2 separate regions of the Homo sapiens genome follow, and region 1 is linked to region 2. Evidence: fine-mapped expression QTL. A gene starts in region 2. The other region holds a variant in brackets. All regions are shown on one strand. Distances are from middle to middle. Region 1 overlaps TRPM3 (transient receptor potential cation channel subfamily M member 3). Region 2 holds the start of TRPM3 (transient receptor potential cation channel subfamily M member 3).

The links.
Region 1: its variant is fine-mapped to the expression of TRPM3 in visceral fat (GTEx, PIP 0.97).

The regions. Positions count from the first base shown.
Region 1 is chr9:70,886,581-70,895,338 of GRCh38, reverse strand. The region is part of intron 1 of TRPM3 (transient receptor potential cation channel subfamily M member 3); the gene reads left to right. Among named protein-coding and RNA genes, the nearest start is that of MIR204, 81 kb to the right of the region's middle. The variant G/A (reference allele first, on the strand shown) is at 3,369.
Region 2 is chr9:71,117,393-71,126,150 of GRCh38, reverse strand. TRPM3 (transient receptor potential cation channel subfamily M member 3) reads left to right here and starts at 4,530. Exons shown (of 26, transcript NM_001366145.2): 1 at 4,530-4,973. The coding sequence starts at 4,797. RefSeq lists an enhancer at 4,885-5,722.

The sequences.
Region 1 (8,758 bases), 230 kb after region 2:
CCTATTCAGAATGGTCCAGGAGGTCCTACCCAGTTGTAGAAAATATTAAGAATTTTAAGAACATTGTTAAAAGTTAGTAATCATTAAACATAAGAATAAAATACAAAGCTGTGTATATTTGAGAATTGTGTAAAGAAAAGAAAATGCAGCGCTGCCTGTTTTCAGAACCTGGATCCATATCTATCTGGACTGGCATACAGAATCGTCATAATAGCACTAACATTTATGTAGCACTTTGCATTTTGCAAAGTGCCTTCATGTACAATATAACATTTGATGACGATAGATACTATTAGCATCTTTGGGCTGATGAAGAAATACAAGCTCTTAAAAGATAAGGTATCTTCCCAAGCCATGGCACTAGCACTCAATACAGTCAGCATTCAAGCCAAAGTTGTCTGACGGCAAAACTTTTTTCCCATTTTCTATTCACAATCTTAGCAGTAGGGCTTCAGCACCGCAATAGGTCCTGTTAGAATCAGCGTGACACTAAAATGTAAGCTTCTTGAAGACACAGATCCTCAAGAAGGTATATTGTATAACTAAGTGATGTTGTTATGATACTACTAAACTTTACGTAGCAAACTGTTGAGTGCTATATATATTTTGGTAATATTATGGCAATTCTGTATGACAGCCCAAATAGATGTAGATCTGAGTCCTGGAGAAGCCAAATCTTGCATTCACTTTTGCTTAGAAAATTCTCAACTGCAACTAATCTTGTATTTTATCCTAAAGTTCAATGCTCTCCTAGTCAATACTGTACTCCCAAGTTCCTAAAGCAGTGCCTGGTACATGGTAGGTGCTCAAGAAACATGTGTTTAATAGAAATATCCCTGGCCTTTGTACCAACAGCATGGATCTTGATATTTAAAGAAATGCATTTGTATCCATGAGATACAAATGCTGAATGTAGCAAACCAGTGTGGTACAGTCCCAGAAAACCCAAGTAATGCCCGATGGTCCCTTGGGCCCAGGCAACCACTGACCTCATAGGCTAGAGCAGACCTCTGCCAGGTCCTAATCCTGACTATGCTCCTAGCTGGTAGTGTCCTGGGCAACCCCACTGAAGATATTCCTTTTTGTTTGTTCATATAATGTTATTCTATATGTTCATTTCATAGACACATATTCACTGCATTTGTATCTAACACCAAACAAACAAACAAAATCCTTGCATCTTTGTAGCTCAACAAGGAGCACGTGATGGTATTAAAATTTGGTGGGATGGCTTATGGGCACCTTTTCATTCTATTATATATGCTTTCCTCCAACAATGTTCCAAACATTTTTCCAAGTTCCTGGACATCCGTGACCCATTTTGTCCTCCAATATATTGCTATTTCCCATATGTGGAGTAAATCCTTAAGCATATTATAACTTTTGGCATTTTCCAGTAGAAGAAATTTGTGCTTACCTCATCATTTTTTTCAGCTTCTTTTAAAATAACTGAGAGGCTTAGAATGTTTTGCATAAGACTTCTTTTGTGTCTTAGGCCTTCTATGGGAGAAAAGAGAAAGAATCCTTTGATGTAAATCTTTTCTGATGTAATCCTTTTCTAATATTAATCTTATTCACTCTGTGTCAATGTTTAATTACCATTAGTCCTTTAATCTCGCCACGTGTTGGATTTCAGGAGGAGGGCGCTTTGCTTCCACAGTAATGTGGTTCCATAATTACAGTTTTCCCTTTTCAGTAGATAGGAGTATAGGGCCCTAATTTTTCCAGATCTAGGAGGTACACTTTCAATCCCAAAGTCATCAAAATTACTACTAGAAATATATGTAGTATTCCATAAACCATTCGTAGTCACCATGGGACAATTGGATATTTATGTTATACTGATATTTCTATTAGTAGTAGCATCATCATAACATATTTATATAGTGTTTTATCATTTATAAAGAGCTTCTTACACTCTAGCCATTCATATTCTTTATTCACTTGAACCTAATGAGAGCCCTATAAAGCATCTTAGGGCTTCCTTTCTATGCACAAGAAAACTAAGGCTAAGAGCATTTAAGTGAATTACCCAAGTTTTCTTATGACAAAGGCAGTTCTCTAACCCAAGCCCCTGGCATGGTCCATGTGATTTCACCCAGCAAACCTCCCTAGCATGGTTATGCAGCCCTTCCAATCTGGAGGACCTGTGGGGAATAGTTTCATTAGAAAAAGCATTATTGGTGTCGCAGAAAATGTCTTCCCCTACATATAATATTAATAATAGCAGTCCAGCACAGGAGACTCTGCTTTGGGGAAATATATCATCAACATTGCCTCTTTTTCAGAATATATTGTAGATAGATAGTGCTTTGTGCTTGCTTAAAATGCTATCTCATGTTGCAGCATATTAACAACCTTGTAAAGTAGAGTAGATGGTATTTTCTCAATTTTATTTGTGGATATAGCCGGTCATGTAGAAATTAAGTGACCTTCCTAGATATGTGAAGGTAACAATCAAAACAAGAAACCTGTAATATTATTTTGTTGTTCAACTGATTTTCTATTTCACCACATACTATGGTTGTAATAATAATTACTGATTTTAACCACTTACATTTTAACCACATACATTAAAGTATTGATTGAGAATTAGAATAGCCTCTTTAATTGAAAACTCTTGAGCTACATGCAGAAATATATTTATTTAGAACTGGTCTTAACCATCCATGAATGTGATAGATTCTCATAAATGCTTGCAGATTGGCTAGTTTTTTTTTTTTTTTTTGAGGTCAAACGGGTAAATTTGAAACTTGAACCTAAAGAAGTAGCAATGTATTGACTTGAGACTTTTTTCTCTCCAAAAGTATAAAATATTAAAATAATTAAAATTAAATTATGTTAAACCACATTATTCTTTCAAGATAATAAATGTTGCACAGCTGTGAAAATAATTTTGATATTGTTTGTAATCTCAAAATTCAGGATCTGACTTCATTTATTTAAAGGCAAAGAAGTGCTGATCTAGAGTAATCACCCTATTTCTAGGTATTTCTACGAATTTACAGATGCCTTTTTTTATGTTCAGACTCTCATAAAGGCCTCTTTTTCTGAATGATATTACATATTAACTCATTTCACTTTTGGTACTGTATAATTCACTTGTGGCTAAAAGAAGTAAATTATCTTACTCCATGAATAATTAATTTCTCTATATAGTCTTCCAAAACGTTAAGGCACAAAATGTTAAAATAACATGGGCGATTCATTCTGAGAATTAAAAGTCCTCTCAGTATCTCTTTCCTTTTTCCCTTTTTTTCCTCGTAAATCCCTCCTGCTCCAACCACGGAATTCTAGTTATTATCCAGGTATTCACCCTGCTGTGGATCTGTAGGCTGGGAGAAGCTTGGTAGTCCGTAAGTTTTGAA[G/A]TAAACTTTCTTATATAATAAAATGAAACTCTGGGATATGGTAAGCGCCTAAGGCACAAGGTGAGAAAGGCTTAAGTTTGGGTCTGACTTTGCCAGCCCTGAGGTCTTCAGCAAATCTTCAGAACAATGAGCCTCAGTTTTCTTATCTGGGATGTGGGGACAAAAATGACAATTTACAGAGTTGTCATTAGGATTAAATCAGATAATGCATAAGAAACCTCCTAACAGTGGCTCATGGTACATAATACATGTTCATTTTATACAACAACCCAAGAGGAGCTGGAGAGATAACTAAGGATACAATTTCATTCATTTGAAACCTTTATCTTCCAGTACTTCCATTTAAGTTTTTGTTTTTCCAAATTTTGCTATTGCTGTTCATTTTTATTACATAGTTTTATGATAGAGCTTAAAAAGTCAAATAGTGCTACGAGGACTTTCACACAAAAAACAGGGTCCCTTGCCTGACACTTCTCACCCCACATATCTGCTTTCACATCTGCTTTCAGCTCTAAAAGCATCTTTTTCTGGCATTTAACTCTATGTTTATAAGCAGCATGCTTATAATTCTGCTTTTTTCATTTTGCATGTTTGATATTTTTACTTTGAAAAATGGGATTTAGCTATTTTATTCCCTTTTCCCAGCATATACTTCATCTTTTCCCTCACTCTCCATACAGTTAACAATTATTTTTTTCAATTTTTCAGTATTCAGTGTTTTTATTTTCTATGACTATGCAAATTTTCTTCACTGTATATAAAATTATTCAATCTCCTTTTCTGAACAATTCTAATTTTTTATTATACTTTAAGTTCTAGGGTACATGTGCACAACGTGCAGGTTTGTTACATATGTATACATGTACCATGTTGGTGTGCTGCACCCATTAACTCGTCATTGACATTAGGTATATCTCCTGATGTTATCCCTCCCCCCTCTCCCCACCCCACGACAGGCCCCGGAGTGTGATGTTCCCCTTCCTGTGTCCCATTGCTGAACAATTCTTTAGGTTAGTTGTGTTTGTGTTTGTTGTTGTTTTCATGCATACACTCCAGCCTTGAGTGGCTGTTCCCAGCTCTGCTGCAGAGCTGTCTTATCATCTGGCACTTTGCTTTTCTATCCTTTTATGAATTCCCTCTGCCTCTGTCCTGTGCTTGGTTCCCTGTTTTTAGATACCATGTTTTTTCCTGTTTACGGAGCATATTTTCCAATAGCATCCCATGAAATGTTGCAGCATGTGGAGTTAAATTTTGAACTATTTTAGGAACTAACATTTATTTATTTTATTCTCACCCTTGATTAAAAATCTTTTCCTCATAATTTCAAGATATCCCCATTGCATTCTAGATTTCCTTGAATCTTGATCTTATTTACGAAATATGTTTTCTTCTGTCTGGAAGCCTGTAGAATCTTATCTTTGTCTTGGTCTTTAAAAATTCTACAGCGTTATTCTTTGGTGGAGGTCTATCTTCATCTACTCCACTGGCCACTCACAGTGACCCCTTCAATTTGGAAATTTATGTTCTGCAATTCTGGAAGTTTTTCTTATATCAATTTTTTTGATAATTTTCTCTTTTGGTGTTCTCTGTTCTCTTTTGCTGGAAACCTTTATTACTGAGTCTCTAACTTATATATTTTTTGCTCCTGTTTTCTCTTTGTTCTGTTTTGTAAGAGATAGCCTCACGTTTGCTTCCTCACCTTTATCTTCTATTTAGGTTTTTGTTTTTCTTGTTATATCTCTTAACTTTCTAACACTCTCTTCTTGTTTTAAAAATGTCCTGTGTTATAGTCTCTCTTCTTCCATGCTTGGGTCTTCTTTAGTTCTCTGAGGCTACTGATTATATTATTGTATATATTTTGTACTATTGACTATATATATACTATATAGTATATAGTACACTATATTTGTATATTATATATACTAATGTATAGTGTGTATATATTTATATATGCTATATAGAATATATAAATATAAATATATAATATGCTATAAATATTTATATTTTATAGTATGTTATATATAGTATATAGCATATATACTACATATATACTAATTTTATGTTGTTTACTATATATACTGTATATACTAAGTATATGCCATATATACACTTTTTACTATACTTTTCTGTACTGTTTCCTTTATTGTTTCATTTTAATGGTTCCTGTCTTTCATGGTAGAGGCTTTCCTTAATTCCTGATGACCCTTGGCTATTACTTAAGCCTTTTCTATTACTTAAACCTAAGTATAAGCTTGCTCTTATACCTCAGAGTAAGGCATTAAAATGCAGATTGGGAATTCTTTGTCCTTAGGTGGGATTTATTGACCAGTGGTCTTTTCTATGGATACCCAGTATTTTCTTAGGAGATTCCTGAAAGTCAAGATCATGAGGTCTGTTTGGTGCTCTTCAATATTTCCAAAGAAAAGTCCACCACTATCCTGCTGGAAGGTGTGTGTTGGGTGGGGTACAGATGGTCAGGGGGTTGGAGGAGGACATAGAGCCAAACTGACCATGGTCTAGTGGCCGACAGAGGTAAGAAAACAGGTGGGGTTGGCGGGGACCTCGCCCATCAATGTGTAAACTTTCACTCATATTTTTGCTTTCATCCTGGTGCCTCATACTTTCAGCCGTACATCTAGTCTAAGGTTCAACTTCTCAAAAGAATCAACTTCTGGTCTTCCCCTTGGTGGGAGAGCAGCAGTTTCCTGGCTATGTGGAGAGGAGGCAGAAGTTTGGCTGGTTCTTTTAAAGACTTTCAACCATTTGTCCCATATGGGCTTGACCTTGCTATTCCACCCATCTCCTAGCCTTTAAAAATACCTGGTGCCTTTATTCCTAGGCCTATCTGAGTTTCAGTGGGGTGAATCAGGTTGTTTCTTGCTGGCTGTGCCACCCCTTCCAGTTCCCGAGCTTTGAACATTCTCTAGTTGGCAATGTTAATTACTACCCATCCATTCATGTTGAAATTTCCAAAAATTTTGTTGACATCTGTTATGTATTCCCACTTCCTTCTCCATACTGGTGTCCTTGTAGGTCATGCCTTTTTGTTGTTACAACTTTCCTCTCATTTTAGAAGAATACTTGAGAGAAATCGAGATAAATGCATATGTCTAATCTTCCAGGTTTGATCAGAAATGTTGTTGAATCAGCCTCCTTCCCATTCTAAAAACATGACCACCCCTTAACTTAGGCAAAAGTCGGCTTGAAGGGAACCACATGTCATCTCCTTCCTCTTCTCATCCTAGGCCCAGGAGTCAAGTAGGCACCTCTGCTGAGCCAAAGTAGACAGGCAGATCTAGTGAACTATCACTGGCTCAGGAAGAGGATATGATACAACCATTCTTTCAATCTGAAATTTTTACAAATGGTATGCAACATGCATTAACAATGGATGTAAGACAATAGGCAAAAGTTTAAAACAAAACCTGTACCTGGCAAACTAAATTCAAGAGTAAAACCCTTCTAATAAAAAATAGTAAACTTTTCTGAGAAAAGGCTTGGAGAATACATATCTGGTAATTTCTAACTTTATCTTAATTATCCAGAAAATTTTACTTCTAGGATTGGAACACACACACACACACACACACACACACACACACACACACCCCAAAATAAAAGCAAGAGCAAAAAATACTCCTAACTCCCATTAATCCAACAAGAAATTAAAATGTGACTATATTGCCATAAAAATTCACTTTTTTCAGGTACCTACTATGTGCTGGGTGGTTATAATGGTTCATAGTAAAGACTGAAGCTAAAACCTCCTTTAGTCATATAAAGCCTCATCATTATAGTGACTTGGGGATAGCCAAATCTAGTTAATACGCCTTCTTGGTTCTATGGAGCATGCTACAATCTGTGCCAGAGGCAATTAAAGAATGGTTCAAATGGCAATCTGTAGAGCTTTGAAGATATCCGTGGGAAATAGGCTGCTTGACTGTTCATTACCATTGTAATAGATTAGAAGTGACATTGGTTTAAAATAAAAACAACAACTCATCATTCTGGTCCAGTTGACCAATTAGGGCATTCACACTTGTCATACTGCAGTTGCACAGTTGTTGACATTATTTTTCATCATATGATGGTTATGGGAAAGATACATAGTACTTTATAGACTGTATCTCTGCTTCTGCCCAAATTAAAGTCTTTGTGCTTATGAGAGTGTGTATTTATGTACATAGAGGTAAAGGGGCAAACCATTCTCTGGTGGTAAAGAAATGAGATGGTAATTGACAAACAGATGTTGAAACCCACAAGATACCCAGATACTAAGAAAATAGATTTGTATGGGCTGCCTCATTCCTTCAACTGTAACATAAATAAGAAGAATCATAACTACTGGAATAAGAAACATATGGTTGCCTGCCAGAAGCCTCTTCTTATCATACCAGATATTCAGGAAAACTCTCCTGAAGTACTACATAAAAAGGCATCATGCTGGCATAAATATCATAGCATAAAATTTTACTTATTAAATTTGTATCACATGTTCTTTCCAATAAGCTCTTAAAATGGAGAAATTATTTTTAGATTTCTATTCTGTATATTATTTCTAAGTTTGATTAACACTTTAGATGAGTAATGACATAGTGAGGAATCATTTTGTCAGTGAACAATTAGCACTGAAGATATATCCAGAACTTCAGTAAATATTATTTAATTTTCTTTCTGTGACTTCAACATTGGAGTTAGGAAGGAGACTACATGTTGACAGGACACAATTTGAGCTTAATAAAACCTGAAACAACCTAAACTAGATGGCTGGAACTCACATCCTTAGCCCTCTTTCTTTCTAAGCAGTAGCCCAATCCACTAGCCACAGGTAACCTGTGTGCAGAGATCCAAGTGATGTAGGAGTTAGGTTGTTTATATTGGTAAACTCTAGGCAGATGCTATTACAGATTTTAATGTAGAAGAATGTCCTTCCTTTTGACTCATCATATGTTTTGATTTTATTTCCTGTCAATTGCAGTTATATTTGTCAGTTATAAGTGTTGACTCTCCGGGCACGGTGGTTCACACCTGTAATCCTAGCGCTTTGGGTGGCCAAGGCAGGTGGATCACCTGAGGTCAGGAGTTCGAAACTGGCTTGGCCAACATGGTGAAACCCCGTTTCTACTAAATATACAAAAATTAGCCAGGTATGGTGGTGCAGGCCTATAATCCCAGCTACACAGGAGGCTGAGGCAGGGGAATCACTTGAACCTGGGAGGTGGAGGTTGCAGTGAGCTGAGATTGTGCCATTACACTCCAGCCTGGGCGACAAGAGCGAAATTCCATCTCAAAAAAAAAGAAAAAAAGAAAAAAAAGTGTTGACTCATTATAAACAAAAAGAGACACTCACAGAGGATCGCCATCCCCAGTAATATTTCTTCCTCAGCAGT
Region 2 (8,758 bases):
TATTTATCACTATTCAGTGATGTTGAGCTTTTTTCCATATGTTTGTTGGCTGCATAAATGTCTTCCTTTGAGAAGTGTCCGTTCATGTCCTTTGCCCCCTTTCTAATGGGGTTGTTTGCTTTTTTCTTATAAATTTGCTTAAGTTCCTTGTAGATTCTGGATATTAGACCTCTGTCAGATGGATAGATTGCAAAAATTTTCTCCCATTCTGTAGGTTGTCTGTTCACTCTGATGATAGTTTCTTTTGCTGTGCAAAAGCTCTTTAGTTTAATTAGATCCCGTTTGTCAATTTTTGCTTTTGTTGCAATTGCTTTTGACATGTTCGTCATGAAATCTTAGCCTGTGCCTATGTCCTAAATGGTATTGTCTAGATTATCTTCTAGGGTTGTTATAGTTTTGGGTTTTACATTTAAGTATTTAATCTACCACAATCCCATTAGTGGTATGTATCCCCCAAAATATAAATCATTCTATTTTAAAGATAATGTACACCTATGTTCATTGCAGCACTACTCACAATAGCAAAGACATGGAATCAACCCAAATGCACATCAATGATGGACTAGATAAAGAAAATGTGCTACATATACACCATGGAATACTATGCAGCCATAAAAAGAATGAGATTATGTCCTTTGCAGTGACATGGATGGAGCTGGAAACCATTATCCTCAGCGAACTGACACAGGAACAGAGAACCAAACACCGTTATGTTCCCATTTATAAGTGGGAGCTAAACAATGAGAACACATGGACACAGGGAGGGTAACAACACATACGGGGGCCTGTTGCAGGAGGAGAGCATTAGGATAAATAGCTAATGCATGTGGGGCTTAATACCTAGGTGATGGGCTGACAGTGCAGAAAACCACCATGGCACACATTTACCTGTGTAACAAACCTGCACATCCTGCACGTGTATACTGGAACTTAAAGTAAAATAAAATATTTAAAAAAGAAAATTCAAAGCACAACAAAATTAATAAAAGAGGCCAATCATTAAGCAAGCAAGACGTTAATATTAAGACTACAAAACACTGAAGCAAACGAAAGTGTCTACAAAGGCTCACCACTGGGCTTGTTCCTGGTTTTTCCCCTGGTTGCTTAAATATCATCCTTCTGCACTAGGTGCACTACATCCATATATTAGAGCCTGAAAATATATGTACAATTGATGTCCAGATACCTATGAATTTTAATGTTGTAATAATAAACTCTGAAAAATTACATTGCAACACTGTTATTTTAGTGTTGTTTGCAGAAAACACATTTCAGAGGGAGGCTTTTGAGTTCTCTGTACTACCTGGTCACTGTGTCATTTCCTTTTTGTTTTCTTAGGTTTTCATGGGTCAGCTCCTTTTACATCCAAAAGATATAAAGAAGACAGGGTGCAAAGTGGTACAATACTATATTGAGGGTGCTATGACTTTTGAAGAGAAGGAACGTGGTCTTCAAAAGAAAGAATTCAGAAGGGCTATACAATGGCCGCCTTGTCAGTATTGAGAATGAGCTCAAATTTCATCATGATTCTTTGGTTTCGTATCATTTACACAGAAAATAAAAAGGGAAGATAATCAGTGGAAAGTGGGCTTTTCTGTAGCACGGGAGAGAATTAGAGTTGGCTCAAAGGCAGGCTTTGGAATACAGAAATCTGATATGCCCTGCTTGCTATTTTTTAGGATACTGAAAGCTAGTATGATTATTTCAGAGTTTTAAGCCTGCTAGAATTTGTTCTGCAGATATGTAGACATCTACATTCATAAGATTTATAAGTAAGCACTTTGAATTTGTGAGATGCTAATATCTGGGGCTGGGCTTGCTCCTCTCTGCTTTTTTTTTTTTTTCTCATTAGACCTCTCTCTAAAACTGGGGAAGGCATCTTCTATGTGAAAATATAATTTCTTGAAAGTAGAGAGAAGGGTCTTGAAAACCCTTCTTTAGATGTTTTGATAGCAAACAATTCTGGCACAAAGCGTCCCCAGTGATGGAAGAAAAACTGCCTCTCATGCACTGTCATCCTTCTTTGATCTTTTACCTCTTTTGCAGTGTAATCTCCAAATCAATTCCCTGAAGGTTTTGTGCTTTTCTCCTCTAATTGCCATTAGAGAGGGCTGTGAATCCTCCTACTTCCTCACTCTGCATAGTTTCTAACAGTTCTCTTTGACCAAAGTTATTCAGTAAAATTAAAGGGGATAGGATCAAAGGCCATGTGTTTTCAGAATGATGCTGTCATTTTTGTGGGGTCCTTAGCATTTTGAAATACTGCAGGGCAGGGGGTAGGCAATTGCAGTTTTTCAGCATTTTCATGGAGCAGAGATCTCACCACCTCAACAGAACCACTTAAGGGCGTTCATTTAAAAGCTTAGAAAGGCTGGAGCCTTCCCCACTAAAGGCAGCATCTCGCAACTGGATGAATACCACACTGCATGAGGAAAACCACGCTGCCCTTGCAGTCTCCCACCTTCCTCTTTACCCCATTTATTAAACTCATAGTAACTCACAAGAAGCATTCAGTTTTAATTTGTCTTGCTTGACTTCATTACCTACTACCATATGTATGCATGCTTAATGAAAATTGTCAGTGGGCTTCCAGCTCAGAATCAGCACATGCTACCCAGAAGATGGATCATGGTACAGGTATTTAGTATATGCCAGGCACTGTTCTAAGTGCTTTGCCAATATTAGCTTATTTAGTCCTCACAACAACCATAGGCATAAGGGTTTATTTTAATCTCCATTGTACGGATAAGGACTCCAAGACACAAAGAAGGTACGTAAATCTCCCAAGACTAGCTTCAAAATTGGAATTTGAACCATGCAGCTTGATTCCAGAATTCATGCTGTTAACTAATACATCAACATCAGACCAAAGTAATAATCTGAAAGAAATGCTGAGCGTTTCTTCTTTAAAGTCTTTAACTCTTATGTAAGATTAAATTACCAAAAAACAGAGGCAGTGGTTTTATTCCTGAAGTCCCTTTTGAAAGAAATAGGAGACAAGAGAAAGCTTGTCTTTACAGCCTAGTAGACTGGTTTCAATCCAGATTCCAGTTATACTAGTATGTTAGACTTGTTACTAATTTCTCTGGACCTCACTTGCTTAATCTGTGAGATAAGAAAATGACCATAACACCTACTCCATAAGGTTGACATGGGCATAAACCTATGCAATGCATTGTGCTAGGTGATACATGTGAGCCGTTATTATTTTAATACTGCCTTCAATCCTTTGTGGAAATAGAATAGTAACAGAAAATGAATCAGCTGTGTATGAGATCTATTAAAGTGATATTGTTTGGTAGATAATCAGAGACATAAATTTTACTATACGAGGTAGGTCAATGGTCTGCCTTCCACCCGTGGACTAGTTTTCTGCAATATCTTTCTTAAATTTTTGACACAAGACCATTGTGAGTGAAATGGTGTTGTAGCGCAGTGTGTCAGGTATTGATTTCATGCTGGGGTGGGCCTGTGTTGTCCCGGTTCTGAATTACAGCAGTGTATCACATCTGCTTGCACCACTCCCAGTTCAGCTCTGACTGCATAATAGTCATGGAGCTGGGATTTACCAATCTCTTCAAGTTAATTAGAAATGGAAAATCAGCATGGTCACAGAGGAAAAAATAAATAAGATGGCGATGCTCCAAGGATGTGGGGATTCTCCCCATAGGAGTTGTCAGGTCAACTGCTCCCACTGAGGTCCGATGCCTGGGGGTACATGGGAGCCGAAGGGGGGTTGTGTCAGGAACTCCCTTCTCATCTCACCGTCCCAACTTACTATGTGAAATTATCCAATTTCTACCTTCAAATTGAAAAACTGTCCTTTAATTCTCTCTCTCACCACAGGAGTCCTAAAGACTATACATTCCAACTCAGCAACTATTTCATACAGCCTCCTTAGAAAATGATGGGGGTGGACACCCCACTTGAGGAAAATCCATTCTTTATAGACAGCATCCCATGTGGCACTTTATGGGTTAAACTTGTGTTGCAGAGAAGCGGTATCAAGTGGCTTTCCAGGAGATAACCCCCATTTAAAAACTGCCATCTCTAAAAGGTGAGCCAAATGCCCATGAGTTTAAACTGCTTTGTATGAAAGGAACAACCCAGTGTGTTTGAGTTTGCTTCTGTCTCAGTGTCTGTCATCTATGCAACCGATTATCAGGATGAAGACTGTCAATCACGGTTAATAAAAACCTCAGAACACGACACAGATCTCTTTTACTATAGATGTATTTGATGATAGCCTCACTTTATTATGTCACATAAATCAAAAGGGAAGCATTTATCTCATCATTCGGAGGCACCCCTTCTCTCCCTGTGTCCTCACCCCTCCCCCCGTACCAGTTCTCAGTCCCTCAAAGATGCTTTGTGCAAGAAAGTGCAAGTTTCCCGTTCTGGCTTCATTTTTGTTCCCTTTTGCGATCCTCCTGGCTCCCCCCCAAACCAAGCTAGCAAAGCAATGGCCCCGGTTCCCCCCCAACGCCTGACCTGCGTTTACTGGGAGGAGAGCGGGAGAGGGAGCGCGCATTCTGGAGCAGGCTGCTTTGACTCCGACCACAGGCTGTTTTGTGCAGGCTGTCCCTCTTCTTCAAAATCGTGCATCCCCTCCCCGAAGCAGCAGGCAGTGTGCCTCCATTCAGCCACATTTGGTATGCATGAGCACGGCTGCAGAGAGAGGGGAGGTGGCTGTTTTAAGAAGGTTCAGGGGCTCAGGCAAGGCTACTTGACTAGTCTTCCAAGTTCCAGGAAGCCTCTGCCCTAATGGAATTTGCAGGTGTGGAGATGACCATGGGATGCCAGAGCCGTGGGGGACCGTTTATTTTCTAGGCATTGCTCAGGTTTTCAGTTTCTTGTTTTCCTGGTGGAATTTGGAAGGGGTCATGAATCAGGCTGATGCTCCTCGACCCCTAAACTGGACCATCCGGAAGCTGTGCCACGCAGCCTTTCTTCCATCTGTCAGACTTCTGAAGGTACTGTAACTTGCAGCTTTGAATGGCGCTAATTGTGCTTTTTAGATTTAAATACCCAACTTGGGGACTTGGGCTGGGACGCACCTTTGGGGGAGCCTAAATGCATGCAGTACTGGCTCTGTGGTCCGTGGCTGGAGAGAGGTTCTCAGTACTCCTGCCCTCCCCCCACGCCCCCCACCCACACCCCGTGGTGTCAGAGACAAGAGGCTGGTGCGAACCACACTCGAGAAGGAGATTTTGGTCTCAGAGAATGGGCTACCTGGTGCTCCCCCACCCCTTTTAACCATTCCTAAAACAGAATTAATTAACTTCTTTGGGAGGGTGGGAATAGTAGTGGGAGTGAAATCTCTTACTCCCTTGTGTTTGGCTCCTGGGCTTTTCTTTCTCTCTCCCTGGGGAAGCCCTTCGACCCACTTTCCCTTTAAATGGAACCAGAGAGAACAAAGGATTCTCCTCATTAGTTTAAAAGCTTTGTGTAGTTAGGTGGCCAGTCAGGTGAAGATGAACAAAGAATGAGCCTCCTCAGACAGTGACTTTTTTTGTGTCCTTGTTTTTAGAAAAGGCATAAAAATGTGAGTCTCCTGAGTGGAATCAGTAGTGGGAAAGTATTGTTAAACATATATTGAATGTCAGCTCTCTCTCTAGCTGTGAGTCACACAAAAGAATGGCACTACACCTGAGCAGGAATTGCCACCGTGTGTCTGCAGCGCTTCTCTTTCCAGAAGCAAATGCATTAAAGATACTGAAAAAGTCCATACAACTCTGTACTAATCCACCTTCATGATCTTTCTTGTAGGGGGGAAAACACAAATTAGATTTAAAGGTGCAGGAAACAAGCATTTTTGCCCAGTAAATAGAAGGTGGTAATACTTAATAGGGAAAAATAAATATCTCTGATGTTCTATATCCATTCGAAGTTAAAAAAGGCAAAGTTCTTAATTCTCTTTTCCTGAGTATGTATGCTCTTTTGATTTAGTGACCACAGAGCATTGAGTCCAGTGGGCTACAATGGAGAATTAATGAATTAGCCCTGAATACGTTACACTTGGAGAATTTTGTTCTGAGGATGTGTTCTGGTTAGGTAAGATTTGATGGGGACAGTTAGTTCCATACAGCTAAGTGGTGCCTCACAACAGAGTATTACCCCTTGCCTGAGTTTTCCTTTTCTTGTTAAACACCAACTGGTATTAACTTTCAACAAAGGCTGCCCCAAGTGCTGTTCAAACTCCCATCATATGGTTGTCATGGCGATGGCTTGCTTCCCTAGGGACTATTTAGGAGGAAAGGCAGGTTTGGGTATGGGTAGTAGAAGAGACTTTTCCTTGGATATGTGTGTTTTTGCTGTGTTGTAACAACATGTGTGATAGGGCAAGAAAAAGAATGAGGCCAGAGAATTAACAAATTGGTGTACATTTTCTCCAGAATCACTAGTGAATCAAGAGTCAGGGGCAAAGAATGGGCATATCTAAGTCTCCCTGAAAGAATTCAACTCCAGTAATTCGAAGTGCAATGAGAAACATTTTTTCAGTTAAAGTCATGTATCAGCTTTAACCCAAAATAATGCTTTTTAACTCTTCTTGACAGATAGGTGACTATCACTCTCCATATATGATTAATTAATATGCTAGTTTTTTTTTAAATGGAGAATGTTATTCATTTACTAGTCACAAAACCAGCAGAGAAGTACCTACCTGAGGTACTTCTTTTAGAAGAAGCTCTGTCTTTTTAGGAGAGTGAGTTCTGTCATCTTTTTTAACTGAAAGTGCTGTCCATACTTTCAGGAGACATTGTTAATGCTACAGCCATACTTTCATTGGCATACAGCTCAATCTTACCATCCTTTATTAAAGTGATGCTTTGTAATAATTTATTGAATAAAGTGCATTACTGTGTGTCCTTCCCATTTTTTCAATATCTAAAAGACAGGATGGAACCTTACTGGAGAACTTTTTTCCCAAATGACATCTGTATTTTTGAAAGATCATAGCTATCTTCTGAGACTTCAGATATTGAGCACATTTCAAACTCTTAAAAAAATAAAGTCATACCAAGTTCTTTCAGCAATACTTAGAAAGAAAGCAAAGCTGCTTTGGTATATGAGCAATTGTATTGTCCACTCTCTGGCTGTGAATGCTATGTATTTTTTTCCTATGGATTGTTGTATGTTTCTCCTATGGATTCCTGTGTTTGCTTTGCTAGTTCCTATGTATTCTTGCCATTTTATCTTTTGAGTAAAATGTAAGTTCATGAATAATAATTTGCATGTTTTGGTAAATGCTCTTCCTGGCTTAATCTAGAAATGAAATATTTAATAACAGTATTTCTTATGTCCTTTCCTTTCTTTCTCCTCCCTCCCTTCCTCCCCCTTCTCTCTCTTGTTCCACCTCCCTCCATACTACCACCACTATGTTAATTTGATGAATGGATTCTCTAGGAATCCAGTAGATTATTGAAATCTTAAGGTAACAAAGCCAATTCTCCTATTCAACAGGTAGTGCTTATTCCTCTTCCAAGCATTGTTCTAATATGACCTGCCCTCTCTCAGTGCCCCTACCTGTCAGTAAATGCAGTGTAGGTCCTGATGGCTTGATTAGATTTAGCTAAACTCTGATCAGTCACCATTTCTGACAGACTGGACTCAAGCCAATTTCCCTTTCTATCCTTTTCCTTGAAAATGTGTGTATCTTTGCTAACTTCCTTTGGTATCACGTTAATATTTAGAAATGGCTTCATAATCCTATTTCCTTATTTTCCATTTCCTAATAGAAACAGGATACAAAAGAATTAGAAGGGGAAGGCCGATATCTGAAGTATGAATTAAACCCAATGAGTGTTGGAATGTACTTATTATTCCTCCTGAAAGCATCTCATTTGTTGTTTTGTCCATCTCAGAGCAATTTTTGAACATGCCAACACACTCACATTTTGAATTTGGGGTTGCATTTGGAAATAAAACTTGGAAATGAATTTCTGGACAGGCACACAATGATGATAGCCAAAAGACAGAGCCTGTTTTCAAATGGGTAAATTTCAAATGGGACCCTTTCTACATCATTTCTCTTCTGTTGTCGTTTGCTTTATTCTTATGTGTTTCAAGATTGCATCTTACTATTAATCACAAAAAAAGTCAAGTTTATTTCAGTGACAGAATGTTCTTAGCATATTTCATATTCATTATCAGGTCTATCTTTGCCATTGTTTTATTTGGAAGATTTTATTTTGGTAACATGTTGAATTCGAAGATTATTTTTAGGGCAGAGAGCTTTCTGTGTATTGAAGTCTTGGCGAACTTACTGAAGGGAAGGCTTCTGAAAAATGGGTTGCATTGGGAGAAGGGGACACTGTATTTGTGACAGATTTTGGAAAGATATTTAAGTCAGTGTGTTAATGAAGACCAAATGATTAGTATCATTTTTAAGACTTTCAAATTTTTATATTGAGAAATCATATGAGTTTGCTCACTTTAAGCAATGTCAGAAATAGAATAAAGAAATTATATTCTGGAAAAGTCAGCCTGGACACTGGGTCCTAATTCCACTGTGTTCCTAACCAGCTGTGTGACCTTGGGCAAATTACTTAATCTTTCTGTAACTTGATGTCTTCTTTAAAATGAAGGGTTTGGGTCTTGACTGGATTTAGATCTAGTGTCCGAAGCCTGCTATGCAACTTGGGCATTGAAGAACGTTGTCTATTTGGACTGAAAGAATTGAATATTAAAATGGAAGAAGGAAACGGGTAAACAACAGTGTTTAAATCATATTAGGTTGGTGCAAAAGGTTTTTAAT